Homo sapiens: one gene and its partners. The protein of the gene in region 3 interacts with the protein of the main gene of each other region in a pairwise test. Each region holds a gene or a part of one and is shown on either strand. Other genes may lie near its edges. The genes, in order: BANP, PLEKHA2, FHL5 and TXN2.

The links.
Region 1: the proteins of FHL5 (region 3) and BANP interact in binary tests that used the Homo sapiens proteins (3 or more experiments, as listed by UniProt).
Region 2: the proteins of FHL5 (region 3) and PLEKHA2 interact in binary tests that used the Homo sapiens proteins (3 or more experiments, as listed by UniProt).
Region 4: the proteins of FHL5 (region 3) and TXN2 interact in binary tests that used the Homo sapiens proteins (3 or more experiments, as listed by UniProt).

Annotation. Positions count from the first base shown.
Region 1 is NC_000016.10:88,003,403-88,010,433, forward strand, and holds part of BANP (protein BANP), read left to right. Parts: intron 1-892; coding exon 893-1,009; intron 1,010-2,687; coding exon 2,688-2,863; intron 2,864-7,031. UniProt on the Homo sapiens protein: Controls V(D)J recombination during T-cell development by repressing T-cell receptor (TCR) beta enhancer function. Binds to scaffold/matrix attachment region beta (S/MARbeta), an ATC-rich DNA sequence located upstream of the TCR beta enhancer.
Region 2 is NC_000008.11:38,897,508-38,904,362, forward strand, and holds the start of PLEKHA2 (pleckstrin homology domain-containing family A member 2), read left to right. Parts: upstream 1-3,838; 5' UTR 3,839-3,938; intron 3,939-4,256; exon of another isoform or gene 4,257-4,562; intron 4,563-6,855. UniProt on the Homo sapiens protein: Binds specifically to phosphatidylinositol 3,4-diphosphate (PtdIns3,4P2), but not to other phosphoinositides. May recruit other proteins to the plasma membrane.
Region 3 is NC_000006.12:96,558,600-96,566,144, reverse strand, and holds the start of FHL5 (four and a half LIM domains protein 5), read right to left. Parts: upstream 3,018-7,545; 5' UTR 2,790-3,017; intron 1-2,789. UniProt on the Homo sapiens protein: May be involved in the regulation of spermatogenesis. Stimulates CREM transcriptional activity in a phosphorylation-independent manner.
Region 4 is NC_000022.11:36,466,523-36,471,648, reverse strand, and holds the end of TXN2 (thioredoxin, mitochondrial precursor), read left to right. Parts: intron 1-3,731; coding exon 3,732-3,845; 3' UTR 3,846-4,603; downstream 4,604-5,126.

The DNA of each region.
Region 1 (7,031 bases), on a different chromosome or scaffold from region 3:
GAGTGAAATCCAAGAATGGAGTTTTATTGTCAGGTGATAATCACGTTGTGTTTCTAGTGCTAGTTCTTTCTCTCCCCAGCCTTCCACAACAAAGCGGACCTTAGATATCCCTTGTGACCAGAAAGTGCTAAGGCTTAAAAACGCATGATTGAAAACTGTGGGTGAGTCTGTACTTTGAGATGAAGCTGTGTTAGCTGCCGCCTGTCTGAACACACTCGTGCTTCCTCCAGGGTGGCGCCAGGCTTGCTGGTTTCTGGGCCATGGTCTGTTCTTTTGTAGAATCTTTTCCTTCAAAGCAGAACCCTGAGCCCTTTGGTTGTAGCTCACACATGTTCCTGCAGGACCTGGAGGCAGCATGTGTGTCCTTCCATCCCAAGTCCAACGTGATGTTTGCCCCTTTCTTTCCAGGGCGCTACCGTTTTGGAATGATACCAACACTTACGTGGTTACGAACGTTAGATCTGTCCCATAGGAATGAGTTGGGATGGAGTGACTGAAAATGTCAAGCCAGTTCTCATGCAAGTGTGCCACCCTAGAAGCTTTATTAACTGGGTGCGATAACAGCTGGTGCGGTTGCAGTCTATTCTGTCACAAGTTCAGCATCCTCAGCCCAGCTGTCCTGTGCTATCCAGTTGTGCAGACAGATCACCAACAATTAGGAAAAGTTACGTTCTGCTAAAAACCCCATCTCCAGTTTATTCTTCCTTAGCATTTGGGGCTCCTTCCCCCTCAGGACGGGTCCCTGGGAGTGGACTATGTTGAATGACTCTTAGGCCTCCCCCTCAGTGCGGGTCCCTGGGAGTGGACTGTGTTGAATGACTCTTATGTGCTCTTACCATGAATGTTGTTGTTTTAAGGCCTTCTTTTTCTTTGTGATTCTTTTGTTCCCTAGCGTCGTCCCCCAGACTACAGTAATACTCAACAATGATCGGCAGAACGCCATTGTAGCCAAGATGGAAGACCCCTTGAGCAACAGGGCACCGGATTCCCTGGAAAATGTCATTAGCAAGTCAGTAGCACGGCACCAACCCCACCTTTCCCTGCCACTGTGCGGAGTCCCATGAGAATAAGTCAACGTCCCTAAGCCAGGGCACAGTCCAGCACACGCTTCATCTCTGTGGTCACAGGGTTGAGCCTGGCAGGCACCGCCCCAGCTCTCTGAGGTCGGGGAGGGCAGGCTGGGCGATGCTGAATGCTGAGTCCAGCCACACCAGGGGCAGCTGCCGCCGGGGACTTCTGTGTCTCGTGCTGGCCGGGGTTGTGGAGGGGGCTGGCTCTGTCTCCTCACAGCAGTCTGTGAAAGCGTTCATCCTCCCACCTAGCTCAGTGGTCCTCACGTCTGTCTGTGCAGAGCGTGTCAGGCAAACAGACGCCCTCTCCCACGGTTGCTAAGTGGTGCAGGCATGTTGAGTTTATGACTTTTTTCTTATACCTTTTTCTCTTGAGACATTTTGAATGGAACTTTGGTCAGAGGTGGGAGTGGACAGAAGACACCGTCCCCGCTCTGTGTGAGGGGAAGGCTGTGCAGTGGCCTCTGGCTGGCATCCAAGCCCTGCTGTCCCCAGGAGTGCCCCTGGGGCTGCGTGAACCCCTGAGGATGCTGTTGCTTTTTCTTTCCCATCTGTGTCTTCACAAAGTTCTATTTGCTTTTTCTCTCAGTCTCCTTTGTGGATTCCTCCTCCTCCAGCTTCGTCCCCTTTCTGTATTGTCTTAGCTCAGTTCTCCAGGGCCGCAGCTGTGGTCGCAAGGGTCTGATACGTGGGGTGAAGGGAGAGGAGTTGGTGATGGGCGGTGAGGAGGTGCCAGGGTCAGCTGTGCCTCAGGGGCTTTGCACTGAGGTCAGCCAGGCAGATGGCCAGTGTTGAGATCAGGTTCAGCGTGGACAGCGCTCTAGAGAATCCAGGCCAGAAAGTGCAGAGTGCAGCGCCCTCCTCTGGGTGCGGCCAGTGTTTTCAACACCCTTTTTTTTGACTTTGCATATAGAGAAATTGTGCTCCTTTCTCCTGCTGGTGCGTAGCAGTCCACGGTAGAGGATGTTGAAAGGGTCACTAAAAAAGGGAAGTAGTAAGTCTCTAAATCATCCTTTTTTTTGAGCACTTGTGGAGGTGGCCTCGCCCTGCTTTGCTAGCAGTGTTCTGTCCTTCCACATCAGCAGCCCTTGGGATGATGGCAGCTCCGATGGGATCTCAGTGGGTTTTTTAAGCCCCGTCAGGGTTTTTTGCCCGTGGGCGTACGTGGGAGTGCTGCTCGCATTGCGAGGGGGAGCCATCTCCAGCGAGCCCAGCAGCGTGGATCGAATTGACCCAGGCCTCTGGGCACAGTTTTCCTCATTTAGTCTTCCCTTTAACCTCGCCGGAAAAAAGACTCTTACCAGCATTTTATGGGATGACTACTGAACTCAGAAGGCAGCATGCTAGGCCTGAGTCCCAGTGAGTATGATTTTACTCCTTTTGTGATACAAACATTTTCTTTAAATGGTTAAGTTTTATTTTATACAGTTTCTTTCAGCCCCAGGCCATTTTCTCCCATGGAGTTTCTATTAATCTTGGTAGAGAGAGCAGTATGGGAAGGCTGTGTGATCCACTGGTCCACACAGAGTTAGATTTTGCGATAAGGAAAGCGCTGACCTTCGCGTGCTGCTTGCGGCTCTTACCACATCGGGCTGGTGTGTTTTTTTTCCCGTTTAGCGCTGTGCCTGGGCGTCGGCAGAACACCATTGTGGTGAAGGTGCCGGGCCAAGAAGACAGCCACCACGAGGACGGGGAGAGCGGCTCGGAGGCCAGCGACTCTGTGTCCAGCTGTGGGCAGGCGGGCAGTCAGAGCATCGGGAGCAACGTCACGCTCATCACCCTGAACTCGGAAGGTGCGTCCAGGGCGGCTTTCCTCGGCCAGAGCGCCAGTACAATTGTTTGTTTGTTTTGCCTTTTAGAAATTTTGTTGTTTTTTAAAGAAGTGATACAGTGGCCAGGCGCGGTGGCTCACGCCTGTAATCCCAGCACTTTGGGAGGCTGAGGCGGGCGGATCACCTGAAGTCGGGAGTTCGAGACCAGCCTGGCCAACATGGAGAAACCCTGTCTCTACTGAAAATACAAAATTAGCCGGGTGTGGTGGCAGGTGCCTGTAATCCCAGCTACTCGGGAGGCTGAGGCAGGAGAATCGCTTGAGCCTGGGAGGTGGAGGTTGCGGTGAACCGAGATCATGCCATTGCATCCAGCCTGGGCAATAGAGGAAACTCCATCTCAAAAAAAAAAAAAAAGTGATACAGTATAGGACAGGCTCAGTGGCTCACACCTGTAATTCCAGCACTTTGGGAGGCTGAGGCGGGTGGATCATGAGGTCAGGAGTTCAAGACCAGCCTGGCCAAAATGGTGAAACCCCATCTCTACTAAAACTACAAAAATTAGTTGGGCACGGTGACAGGTGCCTGTAATCCCAGCTACTTGGGAGGCTGAGGCGGGAGAATTGCTTGAACCTGGGTGGCAGAGGTTGCAGTGAGCTGAGATCGCACCACTGTACTCTAGCCTGGGCGTCAGAGACTCTGTCTCAAAAAAAAAAAAAAAAAAAAAAAGATAGTGATACAGTATAAACATGAAGATTAAAGGGAAAATAACTGTGATCCCACCATTCTGAGATCTCTAAACCTTTTGGGGTTTTTTGGTGCACATTTTATGATTTTATAACTCACTTCTTTCCCCTACACAGTAGAAATCTTTCCACGTTAGTGCAGATGGACAGAGTCATTTTTAGCCAGTTTTGCTTATTTCATCAGGTCTGGATGCTTTCCAGGGATGGCCCCCTCTAACCTTTCGTTATTGAAACTAGCATTGGCCTGCTGTGTTTTCATGTCTCTTGGATCAGTGTCTGGACGTGGGCTCTCAGAGGCAGGTTGCTGGGCTAGAGGACGCAGCTTCCACGGGTTCCATGGCACAGGATGCATTGCCCATTTCCCCCGAGATCTGGAAGGATGTGAAGCTGTTTGTCCTACTTGGACTCCTAGCGGGGGCCTCTCTCCTGCAGGGCTCTGAGGTGCCCTCCCGCCTGGCCCTCGGCCTGCCCAGTGTGCCTTTCAGAGCCGTCTTCCCCTGAGAGCCTCTGTGTGCCCTTCATCCTGTCACCGTAAGTGACCAGATGACTGTCAGTGACTACAGCGTGGAGAAAAGAAAGAACCAAACAGACTTAGCTTTGTGCGTGGAGTTGTAAAGCATGTGTTTTCCTTGCTTACTAGGAAGAACTCAGTTTTTCTGCATCTGCGTCTGAGTTGTTGATTTTTCCTAGCAACTCGATGTTGCTTTGTCTAGTGAACAAAGGCTTTCCTGTTAGGAAGACTCATTACCGTATCTGAAACATTGAAAACAATGTCTTCCACAAAAATTGCTTTTACCTCTAATACAAATTGCTAGGATTCAGATGGCAGAATGGAGGGAAGAGAGAAAGAGACGTTGAGTTGATCTTTTTTTTTTTTCCAAGTTGAGATCTAATTTATATACCATAAAATTGACTGTTTTAAAGCATACGTCTCAGTTGTTTTTAGTATATTCTCAAGGTTGTACAGTCATCACTTCGGACTAATTCTAGAATATTTTTTATTACCCCCAGAAGAAGCCCTGTGCCCATCAACAGTCACTTTCCATTCTCCCAGCCTCCAGCCCCGGCACCCAGCTCATCTCCGTCCTCGTGGATGTGCCTGTTGTGGACCTTGACTCTAAATGGAATCCTGTGGCATCACCCACATTGTAGCTTTTGCCCAGTGCTTTGTTCCTTTTCATGGCTGCGTGATGTGCCGAGGTATGGATGGCCCTCATTCTGTTGATCCATCATCAGTTGATGGGCATCTGGGTGGTTTGCACTTTTTGGCTGTTGTCAGGAATGCTGCTGTGAACGTTGAGGTGCAGGTTTTTGTGTATGTATTAATTGCAGGATCAGGGCAATGGAGTTTTTCACACATGAAATTTGAGGAAAGGAGGGATGCTCCTGATTTCATTTTCATAGAAATTGAAAATCACATTGCAGTAACGACAGACTAATTGTTGTAATTATTTTTGGATGTGGATTTTGTATAAATCCCCACATAGATCTGGCCACCCCCTTCAGGCCTGATGTTTGTTTGATTGAAACTGTGTTAGCTAAGGCAAAAAAACTTGGTAATTCTGGGGAGTCCAGGGTCATAAAAACAAAAAAATCTAAATGAACTTATGAGACGATATCAAATTTGGAGCTTACTTAGTATTGATCTGTATCTATAAGGAAAAATACAAATTTTCTTTGTGTCTGAGTTTAAGTTTTTTTGATGTTTTGTGTAAGACATTTTTCTTTAGCTAGGCTTTGAGCAGAGTTTTATAGCCATCTTTACCACTGATTGTTCTCATCAAACATAATTTTGCTGTACAACACAGGTTGTTAGGATTGGGGTGAACTGCAGAACTTTTTCTCATCTTAAATTTGACTTTATTTTGAAGGAGAGGTCATCATCCAGAGCCATTCTGTTTTCTCATCCCATTAGGAGGAAACATTTTTTGTAATAAATCTGTTTCACTGACTGTCCTTGGGAATGTATATCCCAGTGGGGTCGGTGTTATGAAAATATCTGCTTGAGCTGCCTTATTTGGCATAGTGGCTTGGTGAAAATGAGGAAGTCACCTTTAAATGATTGCTGTGTATGTAAATGTTGGGAAAATAGCCAATCCATTAATGTCTCTTATGTCAGATTTAATCTCAGCCCGTAGTGGCGTCCTCTCTTCAGCACTTCCATGGGGGGTGCGAATGTGCCGAGAATGGGGCCAGCATCTTCCTGCCTGTGGCCCTCTGTCCCAGAGCACCTGGGCAGGTGGTGAATCAGCGAGTTTCTACGAGGGAAAGCATTAGGAATATGGGAAGTGCTAAAGGGGGTGTGCTTGTCTTTCTATTTAGTTGTTTTAGGCCCTGATAAGAAATAGGAGCCGCAGGAGACAGATTGTTCTTAGCTTCTTATTTAAGTATTTAAGTGCCTTAAGTCTTAGAGAACCACAGATTTCAAAACGGTTATTTCTTAAGAATTCCAAATGGCTTGTGTGAATTGACATGCTGTTTTGTATCAAATTTGGAGTCAGTTTATTGTACTGCAAAGATACCATATCATTTTATTCTAGTTTTTTTCACTTAGGTAATTCCGTTTGTCATTACACACGCTCCACTGGAATAAGAAGGATGGTAACTCTCAGCTATTGAAAGCAGGGAACAGTAGACTGTGTCTCATTGGAATAAGAAGGACGGTAGCTCCTGACTGTTGAAAGCATGGAACAGTAGACTGTGTCTCATTAGAATAAGAAGGACGGTAACGCTCAGCTATTGAAAGCAGGGAACAGTAGATTATGTCTCATTAGAATAAGAAGGACGCTAACTCTCAGCTATTGAAAGCAGGGAACAGTAGACTATGTCTCATTAGAATAAGAAGGACAGTAGCTCCTGACTGTTGAAAGCAGTGAACAGTAGACTGTGTCTCATTAGAATAAGAGGGACTGTAGCTCCTGACTGTTGAAAGCATGGAACAGTAGACTGTGTCTCATTGGAATAAGAAGGACTGTAGCTCCTGACTGTTGAAAGCAGGGAACAGTAGACTATGTCTCATTGGAATAAGGACGGTAGTTCCTGACTGTTGAAAGCAGGGAACAGTAGACTGTGTCTTCATTCTTGTGCTTGCCTTTTGTCAGTAGTTTTGGTCTTGGTGTGCTCATAGCTTTGTTTTGTACTTGAAAGTGTGTGGGGCCTCATCATTCAATGACTAAGCTGCCAGCTGAGTTAGAGAAACAAGTTGAGCTAAAATGGACCTAGCATGGGATCTGTTTGTCCATTAAGGGATTTAGTTAGGTTCTTAATCAAGAGTTTAAATTTCTGCTGTGTATGCATTTGATAATTCTTACAAAACGTGACTGATCCTATACATAAAATGTTAGGTACTTCATTTCAGTGGGGGAAGGATTGTGGTTGAATTCTAATTGAATTATTGCCAGGAATTGGTCCCATGGACTTCCCAGGCAGTAGAATGACTTACGTGG
Region 2 (6,855 bases), on a different chromosome or scaffold from region 3:
TTGTTGAGCTTTATTTTACCTTGGTACAACAAGGGGGCTGAAATAGCTCACATGAAACGTCCTTTTTTGACATTCCTTTCCCCACAGGTACAGTCACATTCTCAGACATCAGGGCTGTTTATTGCACTGAACAAAATTAAAGTATAAAATTAGGCAACAGCAATACTGTACTTTCAAAATGTGTCAATGAAGTGATGGCAAAAGTAAACATAAGAAGCTAGACACAGCCAGGTGCGGTGGCTCACGCCTGTAATCCCAGCACTTTGGGAGGCGGAGGCGGATGGATCACTTGAGGTCAGGAGTTCGATACCAGCCTGGCCAACGTGGTGAGACTCTGTCTCTACTAAAAATACAAAAATTAGCCGGGTGTGGTGGCGCAGGCCTGTAATCCTAGCTACTCGGGAGGCTGAGGCAGGAGAATCGCTTGAACCTGGGAGGCGGAGGTTGCAGTGAGCCAAGATCATGCTGCTGCACTCTAGCTTGGGCAATAGAGTGAGACTCTGTCTCAAAAAAAAAAAAAAAAAAAAAAGCAGCAACAGCAGCTAGACACAGAAGGCCACATATATATGATTCCACTTATATGAAGTATCAAAAATAGGCAAATCTGTAGACTGGATGGAAAGCAAGTTAGTGGTGACCAGGGGCTGGGAGAAGAGAAGAATGGGAGGTGACTGCTTAATAGGTATGGCGTCAACTTTAGAAGCCATGAAAATCGGTTGGAACTAGACAGTGGTGAGAGTTGTACAACATTGTGAATTTACCGAATGCCACTACATATACACTTTAAAATGGTAAAATTTATGTCATGTATACTTTATCACAATAAAAAAGTGTCCCCCCAAAAAGAGAGAAAGGGATGGCAAAACATAGCAGGGCACAGACTCACTTGACGCCTGCTTCAAGGTGACATGAGAGGAGGGTGGGGGTGGGGGTCCCTCTGAGGAAGCCCTGGGAGATCCAGGAATAAGAGAGTGGACATTAGTGCAGGATTTGTCATCTAACTGGGGCCAGGTCCTGGCCAGGGACAAGTGTAGCAGTAAATGGGGCTCCAGTGAAGTATGAGCATCTCCCCGAGTGCACTGATGATGACCTTCCCTCAGCCCAACATGTTCCTGGCCTCCTCCCACTGGTGTCAAACTGTATCCATCTAAGTCCCATTTCAAAGCCCACTCCCTTCTTGAGCTCCCCCACCGTCCCCCCCCACCCCCCATCCCCCATTCAGAGACACATTTCCCTCTTTTTTATTTATTTTTTTTCTGAGACAGGTTCTCACTCTGTCACTCAGGTTGGAATGCAGTGGCATGATAATGGCTCACTGCAGCCTCAAAATCCTGGGTTCAAGTGACCCTCCCATTTCAACCTTTAGAGTAGCTGGGACCACAGGTGCATACCTGGCTAATTTAATATTTTTTATTTTTTGTAGAGATGAAGTTTCCCTAGTTGTCCAGGCTGGTCTTGAACTCCTGGACTCAAGGGATCCTCCTGCCTTGGTTTTCCAAAGTGCTGGGATTACAGGTCGTGAGCCACTGCCCCTGGCTATATCTTGTCCTTCTAAAAGTTGACAGCACTTACTCTCTGTGCCATTCCCAGGGCACAAGCCTGCTTCAGCCTTCTAGAGACACCTGTATTCTCTTGCCACCCAAGGCCTTCTGCTTCTCTTTGCCTCCCAGCATCCAAAACAGTAGTGCTCAGGAAATACTTGTGGCTCTGTGATGGAGTGACTCAGGCAGCCCCACGGGGAGTAGAGTTTTATGAGTTTAATATGAACCATACCCTGAAATCTGAGAAATTTACCTCATTGCTCATGCTGGAAACCCTCAGTTCCAGTCGGATTTGCTTGGAGCTGGATGGAATTGTGTTGCTTTTCATACTGAAAATGATCATCTAATTTTTAAATTTAAAAAACATTTACGTAGCACCTACTTCACGTTCGACAGGAATCTCAACACTTCACAAATGTTAACTCACTGACTTTTCCTAACAGAGGCATTGAGAAGTTAAGTAACTTGCCCAGGGGTCAAAGCCAGTAAACGGCAGAGCTGGGCTTCAAATCCAGGTTCCTTGCTTCCAGAGGAGATGCTCTTCAGTTTGTTCTGGTGCCTGAAACTTACAGATGAGTGGCAAAACCCTCCATGAACGGGGAAAAAAAAGACATTGATGTATTTATTTCAAGGGAAATGTGTGTGTGTGTGTGTGTGTGTGTGTGTGTGTGTGTGTGTGTGTGTGTTTTGCCCATCGTCCCCCTTTTCTTCCTCATTGAAAGCAAAATGCTCTAAAGCAAACAGTCTTTTTTCACACCTGAGACACCGGCGGTGTTCATTTTTGCTTTGGCAATCAAAATGGAAGAGGAAACTTGTGTGGTTTCATCACTGGTGCTTTCGGGGTGTGTGGGGCGGGCTGTCCTTCTCCCTCGGTCCTGGCTCATCGGCCCGAGCCCCCCTCCCCAGGCCTTGTGGCCTCCGGTCGGTCGTGGAGACATAAGAGGCCGCCTTTCCTCTGTTAACACCGGGAATGTGCCCCAGCCTCTCCCTCCTTCCTGCAAATCCAGTCCTTGTCCTGGAGAACCTCAGCGTCTTCTTATGCCTGCCTCTTTCAAAGCCTCGTAGGATTTACACCTGATTAACAACGTTTGCATTAGGATCGCCAGACACCGGCGCACGGCCCCGCAGGCCCGCGCGAATCTTCTACATTTTCATGTTTCGGATGTTGTCCACCTGACTTGATGCATATTCAAATGTCTCTCTCCCGACGTGGGAGGCCGGAGTCAGAACCTGACAGACCTGCCGTTTACTAACTGGGTACCCAGGGCAAATTACTTCACAAGTCTGAGTCTCGGTTTCCTCACCGTGAACCGGACTGGTACCCATAGGTTGCGGCGTGGATCAAATGAGATAGCGCAGGGGCGGGACCCGCGCACAGCAGCTCTCTTAGTTCCTCTTGGCGAGGTTTACGTAGTAACACATGCTTGTCTGTTTCCCATTTTTTCCCAGAGCACCCTCATGCTCTGGGGGCAGGAAGGGAGTCTTCGCATCACACCGAAAAAGTCCCAACGGGCACGGTGTAGGCGCCTGTGGTCCCAGCTACTCGGGAGGCTGGGGCAGAAGGATCGCTGGACCCAGGAGGTCGAGGCTGCAGTGAGCTATGACTGCGCCACCGCACTCCAGCCTGGGCGACAGAGCCAGACCCTGTCTTGATTAAAAAATAAAATAAAATAAAGAAATTAAAGTCCTTATAACCCTGGTTAGAGCGTTCCCGCCCACTGGTCTCTTAGGGCACATTTAGGACAACCTGAAGAAGCCACTCTTCTTGGGACCCTAACCCTTACCCCAACTCCTCGGTCCCCAAAGGCTAAGGGCTCGGGATCCGAAGGAGGCCCAGCTGAGGTCGCTGGGTGGGGCTCTGGGAGGAGGAAATGGGGTTCTTGAGGGAGCTCGCGCTCCAGCTCGCCTCCTCCTGCGAGGACGCCCCCTGCCCGGACACCTGCTGCCCGAGCGAGCGTCGGGGCCGGGCCTCCCCGCGGGGCAGTCTCGGCGCGCAGGTCCCACCTGCCAGGCGCGGAACGCGGGCGGCCTCGGGCGCAGCCTCCGGGCGCCCCGCCCCCGCCTCCCCCGCGCGGCCCCGGCGCCCGGCCGCACCCCCTCCCAGCCCGCGGCGCCCCGGCACCCCTCTCCCTCCCCGGCGGGCTCCGCGGAGCATTGTACTCACATCCGGGGCTGGGTTTTGCTTTAATGCGAAACGTAATTAACCCGGAAAAAAGAGCCGAGGGACGGGAGAGAAGGAGGGGGCACTGGGGGAGACCAGAGCGAGGGGAGCGAGAGGCGCGGAGAGTTTGGCAGGCAGACCCAGAAATCCCTGGAGCGCGGCGGACCCGGCGGCCGGAGGGGCGACCCCGCCCGATGTAACGCGCCCCGCCCGAGCCCCGGCCCCTGCACGGGGGGGTAAGTTGGGCGCCCTCGCGGGCTCGGGAGTGGAGAGGCGCAGAGGGGCGCGCGGGGGCTGGCGGGGCTGGGGGTGCAGGGGGCGCCCCGGCGGAGGCCTGGCGGCCTAGGGGCGCGAGGGGCGCGCGCGCAGGGCTGAATACGCCGGTCCTAGTGGCTGACAGGCGAGGGGAGGTGGCCGCAGACCCTGGAGGCCTCCTCCAACCCTCTGGGAGAGCCCCGAGGGCAGCCCCTCCTCCAAGTGCCCCGGGTGGCCAAGGTCGCCGCCGCCAGGGGTCGGGCTGCGGGGGGTGGGGCCGCGGAGAGGGTGGGGGCGGGAGTTCTGCTGAGCTGCATTTTCTCACGTTTGCAGCAGCGAAACTTCTCTGCGGGTTCTGGCGCTGGGGCACCGACCCCGCAACGACTGCCCGGGCTGCGGGAGGGGAGGAGAGCAGAGAACGTCCCCAGGCAAGTCCCTTGGGTACGGATTGGGCCATGGAGACTCCTCTTTCACTCCCCCGACTACCTTATTAAATGACAGGCCTAGAAGGCTCCCCTAGGGACTCCTGTCCTTTCCTCTGGGTGCAGCCTGGACTTCGGGCTTCTGGAACTCCAGACAGTGAAAAGGACTGCCCTAAAATGCAGGTTCGGTGCCAGGTTGGGTGAGCCCTCGAGGGGAGCTGTCGTTCTCTCTCTCACCAACTTCTTCCTCACCTTACACGCTTCCCTTTTCTCCTCCAGTCCTAAAGACGATTTCACCAAAATTTTTTTAAAAAGAAAGAGAAAAGAAGGGTGTGGGGGGGGGTGGTGGGAAGCTAGGCCGTTTAGAAGGGAAAAGTGTCCCTGCACGCCCAGAGAGGGGCGCAGGGCCCGCTGCGGCCGGAGCACCCTCACATCTCCTCCCCGGGGCCAGCCCTGCCCCCAGGCCCTAGCCTTAGGGTTTGGCTTCCTTCCTTCTTGGTGAACGCAGGTTCAGGATGTATCTTCCCCTTCTCATTCCTTCTTCCTGCCCGCCCCCTTTCTTTCTTTAGGGCTCCAAGTGGGGTTTTCAGAGGACAGTAAACGGCAGAGAAGAGGGAGGGGAGAGCACCCCACCAGAAAGCCAGCTGTGGCTCTGGGGGCTCTGAAGGCTGAGCTGTAGATGCACTTGGGGCTGAAGTCCCAAGATTGCACTAATGGTGTTCTTAATCTATCTGACCAAGTCCCATTTTCCCTTCTTTTGTCATTTTTTTTCTTTGGTTGCGAAGCCTTCCGAAACAGCAAAGCAAAAGATCTTGAAAGAATAGAAGTTTTTGCTTTCTATTTCAGTTGCATTCAGTTGACATGTATTATACATGCAAGGCAGTGATGAACAAAACACAACCCCTGTCTTTATTTTTTCTTTTTCCTTTACCTCTGGAGGGCTGGACCCTGTCTTTGGCGAGCTTACAGGACTTGTAAGCCCCCCACTTGTTTTGAGAAGCCAGAGTAAGCTTTTAGAAAGCATCATCATCATCTCAGACATTAGCCCTCTTCACCATGTGCCGCCTGAAGGCAGATGACTTTTGCACTATCAGAGGTCTAGCTTGTAGTCTAGATTATGGCCAGCCCAACGTATGACATGTACCAGGTGCTAAGTAAATGTTTATTGCATTAATGAATGAATGCAAACACATGAATTGTTTGCACTTGTCCAAATGGCAGAGAAAAGAGCAGTGTGGTTGTTCCTCAAACCTGTAGGGATTTGGTTCTCCAAGCTGGTACATGGGAGTTATTAGTCCGGATGTTGCCTTTACACCTAAGTATCCTTTGACCCTGTTTGTACATTACAGCATGCTTTCTACAAATTGTCTATGGCACTCCTAGTGGGGTTTTAGCTAGCTGGTAATGGGAGCCTTGCTCATTTCACAGATTGGTAATTACCTTGGTATTGATTGAGAAACTGCCTGCCCTTTGGTGAAGAGTTTTTGCAACCCTTTCTTTTTCCTTGTCATTGGTGCTTTCTTCTCTCTTCTGTGTTAAGGAAATAGGGCCTGCAGATCCCATCATGTCATGGTAGTGAGCTGAACCATATTCAGCTCGGTATTTTTGAGTGGTTAAAATAAATCTTGAAGACATGCAGGTTTTGGTTGGTGCAGGTTTTTGTTCTGCAGAAGTGGGAAGGGGAAGGCTGATGAGCCCTATCAGCTGAGCCCCAGAGCAGCCCTCCCACTACCTTGCCAAGTGTTTGCCGAAGTGCTAGGATACTAGGAAGACCCAAGCAGCGTTGGTCTCCTGTCCAATTCATGGGACAGATGGACAGGTGGGTGATGCCCCTGCTGAAAGGCTGGATGACTCAGATGAGAGCTTGCTGCAGACCACAGTGCATCAGAATATCTCTTCTGATTCACGGAAACTGCTGTGGCTCGACTTATTCCGGTTGTGATAGACCTAGGGCTTGGAAAAGAGGATCTGGGTGCTGGGACGTTGGGTTGCTCTGCCCCCTCTCTTTTTCCACCATGAACAGTTTGGGTTGCCTTACTTTCCGTTTTCCATCTGTCTCAGTGAGCTGGATGGGACTCCAGCAATCTAATCTGGTAGGCTTTGGAAAGGAAGGAAGGAAAGCAAATATTATAGTGTGTTGGCCTATGGGAAGAGAAGAACCCTGGCCCTGCCTGATATGAGCCCATTATTGAGATGGGGTATTGGACAGGCGGGGGAGATAGGGCAGCTGAGAGGTGGGAGGGATGCGGCCCCATCCTGTCAGTAGAGGAGGCCGGGGGTTGGTGTAGTGAGACCCTACTGTTCCTTCTGAAAGCCCCTTCCCTGCCCTGACCCCAGTTGACTGAAGTGATTTGTTATGCATTAAAGCCGGAATTGGGCTTTCTCACTGTGGAGGTCCCAGCCCTGCTGGGGCAGGGGCTCCTGATATTGCCCAGTGTGGGCAAAAGGCTTGGGGGCTTTGGCCCTGTGGTGTGCC
Region 3 (7,545 bases):
ATAGCCAAAGGTAGGTTAAGAAATACAAAATACAGCTAGATAGGAGGAATAAGTTTGAGTGTTCTATAGCACTATAGGGTAACTATAATTAGCAATTTATTGTATATTTTCAAATAGCTAGAAGAGTGGATTGTAAATGTTCCCAACACAAAGAAATGAAAAATAAGGTAATAAATATGCTATTTACCCTGATTTGATAATTTGTCATATACATGTATACAAATATCACATTGTACCTGATGGATATGTACAGTTACATGTCTATAGTAATACTAATAAAAGCAAAAAAGAAAAAATTTAAGAAGAAAAAAATCTTAGAAGTCATGTGACTTATGACATGTTACTTAAATTGTTTTATGAATAATTGTAAGAGATAGTTAAACAAAATCAAGCTGGAGAACAAGCCCAAGAAGCATATTTCTCCACTCCACTTCCACACCACCATCTTTAGAGCATTATAATTGCAATGATATTGGAAAAATACAAAAAGGTATATTTTTAAATGGGAGGAGACAACCTGAATATATCAAAATAATCTACTCAGGATCCATTTGGTGAGTATTCCTTTGGCAAAATGAATATGCAAAGGAATCGCTCAAAGCTTTGCTAAAAATCAAGTGAGATAAATTTAAGGTCCATTGGTGCTGGAAGTATAACCGAAGAATTTGAGAAGACAAAAAATAAAAATGACTACTGTTATTATTATTCTAATATAAAATTCTATAACACAGCTGTTTTAATTATATCTTTAAGGTAGGGAGGCAAACTCACTTGCCCTCATTCATAGAAAACTCAGTATGAATGACACTTCAAAACCTTGACTCTGTTCTCCACATCACACTATTGTTTTCAAAGAGACTCTCTAGCTTTATTTATTTAATGAATGTAAACCTTGCTGTTGACATATCCTAGTATGTTCTAATCAGGGTAATTAGCCCATGTGAAAGTTTAGACATATGGTGAGGATAAGGTAAACCCAAACCCATAAGAATGTTTTACTAGTTCATATAAAATACTAGGGTATGTCATCAATAAGCTGATTATTTATTTTTATTTTAAATAGAGTCTCCCTATATTGCCCCAGCTGGTCTTGAACCCTGGGCTCAAGTGATCCCCACGACCTTGGCCTCCCAAAGCTAGGATTACAGAAGTGAGCCACCGTGCCTGGCCTCAAGCTGATTATTTTGCAGGGATTTGAGGCATGTTGGGCAAAAAGGAGTCCTCCTTCTCCTCCTCTTCCTCTACCTCTTTCTTCTCTTCCTCTCCTTCAATGAGCTTTCAGGGTACCAAAAAGTAACCAAGAAAAATTATGGTAATTGGAGAGGAAAAAGATAATTACAAGAACAAGGAAATGCAAGCTGGTTTAACTAATATCTGATTCAGAGCTTCCCATGCGAACCCAAGTATTCAGCTTTCATTTCTAAAGAGATCATGTTCCCTCGATTGAAAAAATAAAAACAGACAAATTAAATATCTGTCTCTAAATATTCTCTAAATCTCTAAATTTTCTAAACTCTTATTTGTAATATTATAGTAGAAAAGTACCCAGTCTTATGTAAGAAACACAGATTAATTCAGCTTTACTCAAAATGTTGGTAAGTGTAATAAAAATAAGAGGTAAATTTGTCAGTGAGGTGGTGTTATATTAAAACACAAATCTACTACTCTTGCTTAGGTAGAACAGTCCCAGATTTGGCAACTAATAATAATGTGAGAATAAATAGAACAAGTGTAGAAAACAGACACTAGAGTTTACCTTCCCCTTAAAGCAATTTGGATTATGGCTTAAAGCATATATCATAACACATATGTTAAGAAATATCTTGTATGATACATATGTTTGCAATACCTATGTTAAATTTTAATCCATATGCTTTGCTAATAAAAATGCTAGTATTTACACATGATGGTATTGTGGATATAAAATGAGGGCTAAAATGGCTCAAGGATTTCCTTACATTTTATGTATGAGAGCTATGCATTTTGTTAATAATTCTTTTTAGTTTCCAATTTTCTAAAGTCTGAAATGACAGCTGAGGAGCTGCATTTGGTTTTCAAATGAATGATAGGTACCAAAGAGGATATGACTAAAATAGTGAGAGAGAAAGCATTAACACATATGGGATGTATGCTTTTTGCCTGAATAACACTACCTCTGTTTCAAGAAGTAGCACTTTAGATTGATATAGTCTATTATATATTTCTGTGGGCTGGAAACACAGATATTTTAATTTAACCTTAGAAAATTAAAGATTATGAATTTTTGTATGCCCACTTCTGGAAAGTAGGCAGATTTTTCTTGAAAATAGCAGGAATCTCATTAACTCCTTTTACTTAAAACCTGTAAGTGACTTCAAAATGTGCTCTTGAAATATAAATCTAGTCATAAAATATGCTCAGTGATAATGTTATTCATTCAAATAAATTAAGCCAAATAAAATCTCAAGAGCCCTCCTCTTCTTCCTCTTTTTACAACAATAAAGCTATACCCCACATTAAGACCATTAGAAAAACTCAAGAGGCAATTCCAAGGAGTTATCTGGCCCCTATGTTACCTCCACATGCAAGTTATAAGAATGAGAAATCTGAAAAGCTCAGCATATAAAATTTGATAACCTTTAGCTAAAATGGCTAAGAAACTTCAAAAGGCATACACTTTTGCCAAGCAAAAGTTTTCTCTTAAGTAGTTACTGGAAAGTTTATAAAAATTTCTCATCCTTAAAAAAAAATTAGAGAAGTCAAAATACCACAAAACAAAACAAAGGAAATATTTGGGGGAAAGAACTCACTTTGTCTTAAAGCCGCTTCTTCCTGTGATTTAAACAGTACGAAAGGAGAATATATGTTGATTATTTTTCCTCCAATCCACATGCATGTCAACTCCAAAAGGAACAGAAAGTCACCAGCACCATCTGAAGATCCCTTCCAACTGCATGCAGCTTTTTCAACTTTGCAGGAGAAAACAGAAGGGTCCCTGCATTTCCTCCAAGTCTTATACCGTGTACATGACTCCTACTGGGCTGAAAAAGCACTATTTGTCAATTTTTACTTAAAACTATGAGTAACAAATTCTCTGCAGGACATCCTTAAAGGGAAATTCTGCCAGGATTAGCATTCGAAGTATCTGGCTAAGCTCCAAAAAGTTTAAAATACACAATGTTCACACAGACGCATACACACTTGAGAAATTTCCACTAACTAGGCTAAATTAAGGGCATATTTATAAAAATAATACTCTAAAAGGATGATGTATTTTCTGTTTCCTCAATCTGTTTTTGGCTTTGTTTTCTTTGTTTTCTGGTGGTGATCAGAACCCTTCTTTTAGGTTAGAAATGTCTGAACCGCTGAGCTTTTCTTTTGGACATTGTCTCTTAGAATCTCCTTTTGAGGCCATCTGGAAAGGGATGAGGTCCCATGCTCTTACCTGCAAAATTATTGGTACCTTAAGAGATGGCCCCCTGGATTGTGGCCTCTATCTCTCCCTTCTTGGGAAATTGGGGAACTCTGAGACATAAGTTTGAGTAGAATACTCAAGGTAGTTCCCTGCTCTCTGGACTTGCAGTGTGGACTCAGCCTTCCCCGCTCTGCCTGCTTCCTGGTGAGCTGGCCACAATTGTGACATCACATCCATGGCTCTATGACTTCATAAAGCATAAACTCATTGAGTCTTTTGAAATCTTCAAAACACAAAAAGTGGACAGAGATGTCAAGAGTTGGATCTGAAGAAATTTTTGGATATTAAACCAATCCATAATAGGTATCCTCAGTGGGGCACACTGATTCATAAGGCAAGTGACATTTTCTCTTAGAATCTCCATTTGAGGCCATTTCTTCAGTTTGGAAGGCAGGATGAGAGAAGAAATTCTGCCTTAATCCCAGACCAAACTTAAACTGTCCTTGTTCTAACTGCTAAAGGAATGAAATGTTAATATCTTCTAAGGTCAAACTCGGGTATATACAGTCAAAGAACTTGAGCTAGAGAAATGCAGAGCCAGTTAACTGTATGTTTTGTTATTCACTTGACTTTAATGATTAAGACATTATGAAAATGAACATATGGCGACTAACAACAATAAATTTGGATTCAGCAAAAGGACACAAGTATATTTCATTAGTAATAGATTTTAATCCTTAGGACACCATTGCTAAACAGGTACTGCCTGTATTTTCCTTGTTTTATGGGCAAGGAAAGCAGTCCTTGAGATGTAAAAGTGCCTGGGACCATCACCCTCTTTATTTGCTCCCATGCTTCCTGAGAGGGTAATCTACATCCACCAAGTCATTCCAAACCTACTACATTCTGAGCCTTCTTCTCCCTCCCAACTTATTGCAATCTGTCTTTCACTTGAACCGCTCCAAAAAAGCTTCATTAAGATCATATACAACCTTGATTAGCAACCCAAAGAGTATGGTCTTCAGTCTTACCGAAAAATTCTCATCTCTGGCCATGTCTATTTCTTTCTGAAATTATCTTCCCTTGGTTTTGCTATGTTACACCCTTCTGATTTTCTGTTTGCTCTTAGCACCCTCACTTTCTCTCTATTCACCTCACTCTTCCCTAGAGCTTTATCTTCTGTTCAGTATGCTTCTCTGCAGACTTTCCATCACGTTCTTCATCAAAACAATGAACAATTTTATACAACATGACTCCCAAATGTGTACTTTCATCTGATACCACTCTTCAAGGTTCCAGACCTGTATCCCGCTATCTATTAGAAAACCTTGTCTAGGGGTCCCCAGCCATCTCAAACTCAACAGTCCCAAATATCCTTATTGTCTTCTCCCCATTCCAAACTTGTTAGTTTGCTGTATTTCCTACTTCAGGGAATGGCACAATCATCCACCCCTTATGTTAGAGTATTCCCTTTCCTCATTTATCCTCCACCATCCCCATCATTGTCCACCTTCTGTAGGTTCTAGTTTGTTAAATGATCTTTCTCAAATTTGTCCTCACCCCTGCATTCCATGTCTCACATGTCTCACTCAGATTATTCTGTCAGCCATAAAATAACTGGCATCTGCCTCAGCCTGATCCCTTTCTATCCTTCTCTATAGAAAAATATTATTTTTAAATAAGTTTGTTAAATTATAAAATACATGCTTCTTGCAGATAATCTGGAACAGAAACTGGAAAACATATACAGAAAATGTAAAATGTAAAATGATTTGCAATCCAAGACAGCCCAGACCAAATCTTTGTGTACCTCTTTAGGCTTTGTATCATTCATATATTAATGATACAGAGAAATGCTAAAATTTTTTGTAAATATATTGCATAACATAGTTATGCAGTATATTTAGTTAGAAAACCAAGACCACATTGTATATACTTGTAGAAAGTGCGAGATATTTTTCTTTTCCATTACTAGGTTTATGGTTGAGGCCCCTATAAAAAAAGGCAAATTAATAAAAGTATACAAATTATTTAATGTAAGTTTTTATGGGACATGGGAGCCTTTCAGAAATGAAGACTCAAAGCAAGAGATAAACGTGTGTATTTTTATGCTTAGATTTGATGAAGAGTGGATAGTCATGGAAAAGTATGACTGGACAAAGGGGATATAGTCTAATGATTATACACTCGGGGGAACTTAGCAAGGCCTGTTTGTTTAGACTCTTCTTTGTGTTCCTTTCTTCCAGGCATAGGGAGGTCTCTTGAATGAGGGTCTTATGACCTGCCTCGGGAGAGAAGGGTAAAGGGAAGGTGGGAATGATCTTCCTGCTTCTGGAGTTTTCTCAAACACCAAGGTGCCATATTTTAGCGTAGTGCATCCTGAACCCCATTATAAATCTGTATCCTTGTTTTCACTTAATATACTGTAATTTTCCAAGCCAATAAAATATTTTTTATTTTATTATTATACTTTAAGTTCTGGGGTACATGTGCACAACATACAGGTTTGTTACATATGTATACATGTGCCATGTTGGTTTGCTGCACCCATCAACTCATCATTTACATTAGATATTTCTCCTAATACTATCCCTCCCCCAGCCCCTCACCCTACAACAGGCCCCGGTGCGTGGTGTTCCCCTCCCTGTGTCCATGTGTTCTCATTGTTCAACTCCCATTTATCAGTAAGAACATGTGGTGTTTGGTTTTCTCTTCTTGTGTTACTTTGCTGAGAATGATGGTTTCCAGCTTCATCCATGTCCCTGCAAAGGACACAAACTCATCCTTTTTTATGGCTGCATAGTATTCCATGGTGTAGATGTGCCACATTTTCTTTATCCAGTCATTCACTGATGGACAAGCCAATAAAATATTTTTAAAGTGGCTATAACAAATAGTTGCTATGTAATAAAATACATAATGGAATAGCTCTCCTTTTTTTTCTCTCTTTTTTCAACACCAAAAGATACACTCAGCATTTAAAACATACAAATCACAGGACTGAGATTAAGACTGAAAAGAGGAAAGGAGAAAAATCTAGAACATTGACTTTAAGTACATTTACATTTATTAGGTTGTATTTAAACAACAATATGTTCTATGTGTCAAGTCTTCAAGTTCTTACCCAACTCTGAAGTCTGTATGATAGAATTAGGTTAAGGACTGCATTTTAGATGAGTAAAGACAGGCTCAGTAGTAAAACAGTTTGACAAAGCACTTTTACTTCTTTACATTGAGTAACACAAAACATGAGACAACCTTTGAGACTTTTGTCTTAGGTTGACTAGTCAGATCGCAGTTTTTCTTTGGCAGACTAGTATCTGAATAGACTATTTCAGAGCCAAGATTGGCCTGTTTCTGTGCAAGAGAAGGTGTCCATGTTCCTCTCTACTAGAGGCTGGGAAAAAAGACTCGTATACATTTTTTAGTCATTTTAATTCTCAGAAAAGGAAGACATTAATTTCACGAATAATATGTACATTTTAAAGAATTTTGGTAAATTGCCAAATTGCTTTCCAGAATGTAATTTTTTTAGAAGACAAATGTAATTACTTAATTTCCCTGGTTAGTTGAATCTTTTAAAGGCTTCCATGTTTTTGAGATAGTGGTTGAACTTTGTAGCTTAGTGTTTAAGGCATTTCAAAACCCCCCTATTCTCTCTACTTTATCTTACACTACTTCCCCAGATCAGTTATTATATTTCTCAGACTTCTTGGCTCCCCACATCTCATTATTTCATTCTAATTAGCGTCATAGTACTTCTGTACCTCCTTTTCTCTGCCTTAATATGCTCTCCTTCCCTTCTCTCATTTTCACCAAGGCTAATCCTTCTTTTTTTCTCTCTGGACTCTTGGTTCAGGTGTTATTTCCAGCCTCCCCATTGTGCAACACAGTCTAAATTTCATTTCTTGTCACAACACCCTCTGTGTACTTTTACCAAGACACTATATTTAACTGTAATTATTGACTTGTTATTTCTTTGAAAGTAAAACATACCTTTAAAGTTGATATGTGCCTTCCTAGTATTTAGCTGTCATACACGATCGAGTAAATTAGGCCAAGTCCATAAATTCACCATGTTCTCCCTTTCCTCCATTTCACCATCAATGTAATCCTGTCTTTCCTGCTCCTTAAAACAAACACCCAGATTG
Region 4 (5,126 bases), on a different chromosome or scaffold from region 3:
GCCTCAGTATTCTCATCGTTAAAATGATCCTGCCCACAGCCAGGAGAGTGTGAGATAGTGTATAGAGGTGTTTATATCATTCCTGACACGAAAAAGCACCCAGCATGTGACAGCGATCTTTTCCTTTTAACTCTGCAATGAGCCGAGGAGGAGGTTGCAACATCCCGCAGCACCCAGCACTGTGCCTTTCCCTTGGTAGGCCCTTAGCTGAGTTAACAGATGGATGCCATCGGGGTGGGACAGGAGAAGACATACCAGGACACGGAGCTCAGTGGCGGTGCAGGCGAGCTACGGGTTAGCAGAAAGAGACTGCGCACACGTACACACTCCCCCACTCCTGCCGAGTTCAGAGGGTCTTTATCCAAGGATAGGAGGTTCCAAGTGGCTTCACGGAACAGGACAGGCAACACGTCGTAGCGTATCTTTTCCTCAGCCCCTCAGTTGGCTCAGTCACTGCCTCTTTCACACTCAAAACATTCCAGAAGAATGTGCCAAGGCCCTGTGCACTTCCATGTAAGGCAGTGTTTACAGGCACCGGCACCTCCTGATGTGTGAGCCAGACACAGGAGCAGCAGAGCTTCAGCCGCCTCCTCAGGGTCGAGGGAAGTCCCATTCCAGCTCAGGTTTCCTGTGAGCCCCTAGTGCGGGTAGTGTGTATGTGTGTGTGTGTATATATGTGTGTATGCGTGTGTGTGTTTAAGCTCAACTTCAAAATATCCCCTTGATCAGTAGTGACCAGACCTCCATTGACAGCACATCTGCTGTCTACCTGACACCAGCAGGGTCTGTGCGTGTTCAAGCATGTGTGGAGGTTTACATGAGTGAGATCATTATGGCCTTCATCTGGAGTTCTTTTTTTTTTTTTTTAATATTTTTATGGAGACGACGTCTTGCTATGTTGCCCAGGCTGGTCATGAATTCCTGACCTCAAGCAGTCCTCCTGCCTTGGCCTCCCAAAGTACTTGGGATTACAGGTGTGAGCCACTGTGCTTGTGCCTATCTGGAGTTCTTAAGGAACGCTAAGTCCACTCTCTGAGCCTCTTCAGTGAACTTAGAGTCTTGCCGTGAAAAAAGTTAGGCCACTTCTTATACAGTGGCATAAAGCATATATTTTAATTAAAGGAATAGGACAGTGTGCAGGTGGGAGCCGGTGGCTGAGCTCTCTGCTTCTGCCAAGAGGCTCCGGCTTTGAGGCACTCCAGCTGCCTTTGCAGACCACTAGAGGGCACCAAAGAATGCCTGGGAAGGCCCTGGTGGCTTCAGGCGCTTCCTGGAGCAAACTCTTTCGGGCCCTGCTCTGCCTGGAGACAGGGTTTGCCACCCACATCAGCCCAGGGACAGCCTTTGAAGGGGCCTGAGGCACTAACAAGGACAAGGACTGTGTCCTGTGACCTGCTGTGTTTGTCCCCAAAGTGTCCGTGAGGAGTGGGGTGCAGGGCCTGCCACGTAAAGTTAGTGGGTGAGGGCGGGATGGTCTGGCCTGCGTGCCTTTCCTAACTACCATGTGCATGGTTTTTGAACATTCTGAATCTTACTGGCTTCCAAGATGGGCCGTGGCAGGGCAGCACTGGGATATGTGAAGACCTGGTATGTTTGTGTGAATCTCTGCTCTTACTTTGTAGTTTAATTTGTATGTAAGAAAAGTCTGTGTTTATCTTGTTCTGTTTATTTTTATTTATTTATTTTGAGGGGGGGAACAGAGTCTTGCTCTGTCGCCCAGGCTGGAATGCAATGGCACAATCTCAGCTCAGTGCAACCTCTGCCTCCCGGGTTCAAGCGATTCTCCTGCCTCAGCCTCCCGAGTAGCTGGGACTATAGGCATGCCCCACCACGCCCGGCTAATTTTTGTATTTTTAGTAGAGACGGGGTTTCACCATGTTGGTCAGGCTGGTCTCGAACTCCTGACCTCAAGTGATCTGCCCGCTTTGGCTTCCCAAAATGCTAGGATTACAGGCGTGAGCCACAGCGACCGGCCTATCTTGTTCTGTTTAAATGGTTTTCTCAAATGCCCACGAATGCCAGGCAGGGATCCCAGGCAGCAGAGACCTCACAATGCCAGTCTGGTGGGCCACAGCCTCATCCACGTTCCACATAACCTATGCAGGTCCCTGAGGGAACTGAGTAAATGCTTCACAGACCAAGAATGTTGTCCTTGCCATCTGCCTGCAACCTGCTAATAAGCGTCAGGTTGTGTATGGCCAAGCCTCTCCTCTCATGCTGTCCAGTAGAAGTCCCTGAGTTTCTGGACCCTGTCACTCATCACAGCAGCAAGCTAATGTGCTCTCGTGGGGCCTGTGTTGGACTTTTCCTTGTGCCCTCTGTAGCCACTGTTTTTTGAATGCCCACAGTATGCCAGGCACAATGCCAGGTTCCTAAGCTTATTTGCCGGGCGCTGTGCTGAGCCTTTACTTGCGTTATTTCATTCAGCTTTCATGCCCTCTAATGGCAGTGCCCTTAGTATCTCCATCCTGCATCTGAGAACACTGAGGCTTAGTGACTGAGGGGCGTGCCCCAGCTCACCTGGCTGGTAGGAGCCGGATTGCGTCCGCCAGAACCTGAGCTCTGCTTTATTTATGTATTTATTTATTTATTTATTTATTTATTTATGAGATGGAGTCTCACTCTGTCACCCAGGCTGGAGTGCAGTGGTGCAATCTCCACTGACTCCAGCCTCCACCTCCCAGGTTCAAGCAATTCTCTCACCTCAGCCTCCCAAGTAGGTGGGATTACAGGTGCCTGCCACCATGCCCGACTAATTTTTGTATTTTCAGTAGAGACAGGGTTTCACCATGTTGGCCAGGCTGGTCTCGAACTCCTGACCTCAAATGATCTGCCCACCTCAGCCTCCCAAAATGCTGGGATTACAGGTGTGAGCCACCGCGCCCAGCCTGAGCTCTGCTTTATACTCAAATCTTTCTCTTTTTTTTTGAGGCAGGGTCTCTGTCACCCAGGCTGGAGTGCAGTGGCACAATCACAGCTCACTGAAGCCTCAGTCTCCCAGGCTCAAGCGATCCTCCTGCCTCAGCCTCCCGAGTATGGGAGTACAGGCATGTACCACCATGCCTGGCTAATATTTTGGGGGGGTTTAGTAAACAAAGGGTCTCACTATATTGCCCAAGCTGGTCTGGAACTCTTGAACTCAAGCAATCCTCCAGCCTCAGTCTCCCAGAAGGCTGGGATTATAGATATAAGCCACTGTGCCCAGCCTATACTTGAATCTTTAATGTTCATCCCAAACCCTAAAGGTAGACATTACCCCCATTTTATGGAAAAGGACACTGAGGCTCAGAAAGGTGCTGTGACCCGGCCAAGGCCCCCTTGCTAGTGAGTGCAAAGCCAGGACTCGAACTGTCCCCCAGCTTCTGTCTCCTCCTGGGCCAGGCTTCCCCTGAGCTCCTCCCTGCCCCCAGCCCTGGCCTGCAGCTGCAAGGGTTATTTTCATCTCTCCTGTCATTCCAGCAAAACCACTGGGCCAGTGAGTCAGTCTTGTGGTTAAGGGAGGAAGGGTACTGTTGGGAGCCCGCAATGGAAGACGTTTCTTCAGCGGGTGGCCCCCGGGCCCTGCAGTACCCCTGCACCGAGAGAAGAGCCATGTTCCTCTAGGCCTGCCCATGGCTTTGGGAAGTCAGTGCCCTGGATAAGCCACCAGCCTTCCCCACAAAGGCTCAGGAGTGGCAGTTGAGAAGTATTCACTCCCAATTCACTTGGACCCCCTTGTCCTCTCCACCCAGGTGTCAGCGGTGCCCACTGTGCTGGCCATGAAGAATGGGGACGTGGTGGACAAGTTTGTGGGCATCAAGGATGAGGATCAGTTGGAGGCCTTCCTGAAGAAGCTGATTGGCTGACAAGCAGGGATGAGTCCTGGTTCCCTTGCCCGCGTGGGACCCCAATAGAACTCAGCCCTTCCATGCCAGCCCTTCCTGCTGCCTCCCTCCTGTCTGGCTCCTGGGGCCCATGCTTAGAGCCCAGGCTCCAGCCCTGAGTGCTTCCGAGCTGGCGGACTGCCCAGGGGCCATCAGAGGATGGTGGTGCTGCTGCTGATCCGGGGACCGCTGTCTTCCCTCCCATACGCCTTTCATCCCTCCTTCTAGGGCCTATGGCAGTTCTCCCAGGATGTGTGGCGAGAGCCTGGGCCAGCCCACAGCGTTCCTAGTCAGGCAGCCACACCTTGGTCCTCATCTTGGTCCCTTCCAATCTGAAACCTCGTGCCTGGCTCGTCTGCCACCTACATTTCTCTTTCCAGCTGCTGTTTTGTAAAAAGAAAAAGAAAAAAGAAGCCCAAACTAGTGAGAGTAATATCTAATTATCTCATTTTTTGTAGGTCTGTGATAAAGAACTTAGTCATCCCTTCCACCTCCTACTGTGAAGAACAGACCCTGGGTCCCACACTGAAATCCCCTCTAGTCACCCATTCCCACCCCCCAGGGAGCTGCCTCCCAGGCAGGGGGTGCAGAAAATGATTGATGGGCTGGGGAACCCTGGAGAGCCTCGACTCCGGAAGTCTCAAGGTGCCTCCTCCTCTCCTTAGCTGGCCCGTTGGTTTTCTGAGCAGGGGGCTGAACTGTGAACAAGTCAGACAAATAAAGCAAGGGTCTGCACCATCTGCAATGTCACATCTGTGTGGGCTCAGAGCACTTGTCACCCTTTCCCAGGGGGCTTGTCCACTGTCCCCACATCCTCCCCTAACTCCACAACACTCTCTCCAACCAGCCCTTCCTGTTCACTAACATGCTTGTCAGCAGTGGCTGCTATTCTAAGGATGCCATGTGCCAGTCCTCGTGCCCTCCTAAGGCAAGAGGCTGTTGTCCCCATTACCCCGATGTAGACACTGTGGCTCATGGGATGCAGAGCTGGGGTTTCTATCCAGACGTGGTTGCCTCTGAAACCTGGGCTCCCACAGCTGATCCCCTTGACCCTTCTGAGGCCTCCCCAACTGACAGGGCTCCTGGCTGCCCCAGCAGGTGCCTGGCCCTGTGGGGATCAGGCTATCCTTCCCATGGGTGCCTGCAGGAACTTCTGGGCCTTGGGACCAGACAACCCCTCTTGGCCCCCAGCTCCCCTTGGCCATAGAGGAGTGTGCCAAGGGAGCCAGGCTTGCCAGTCAAGAAAGCCTTCCTTCCGTCTGC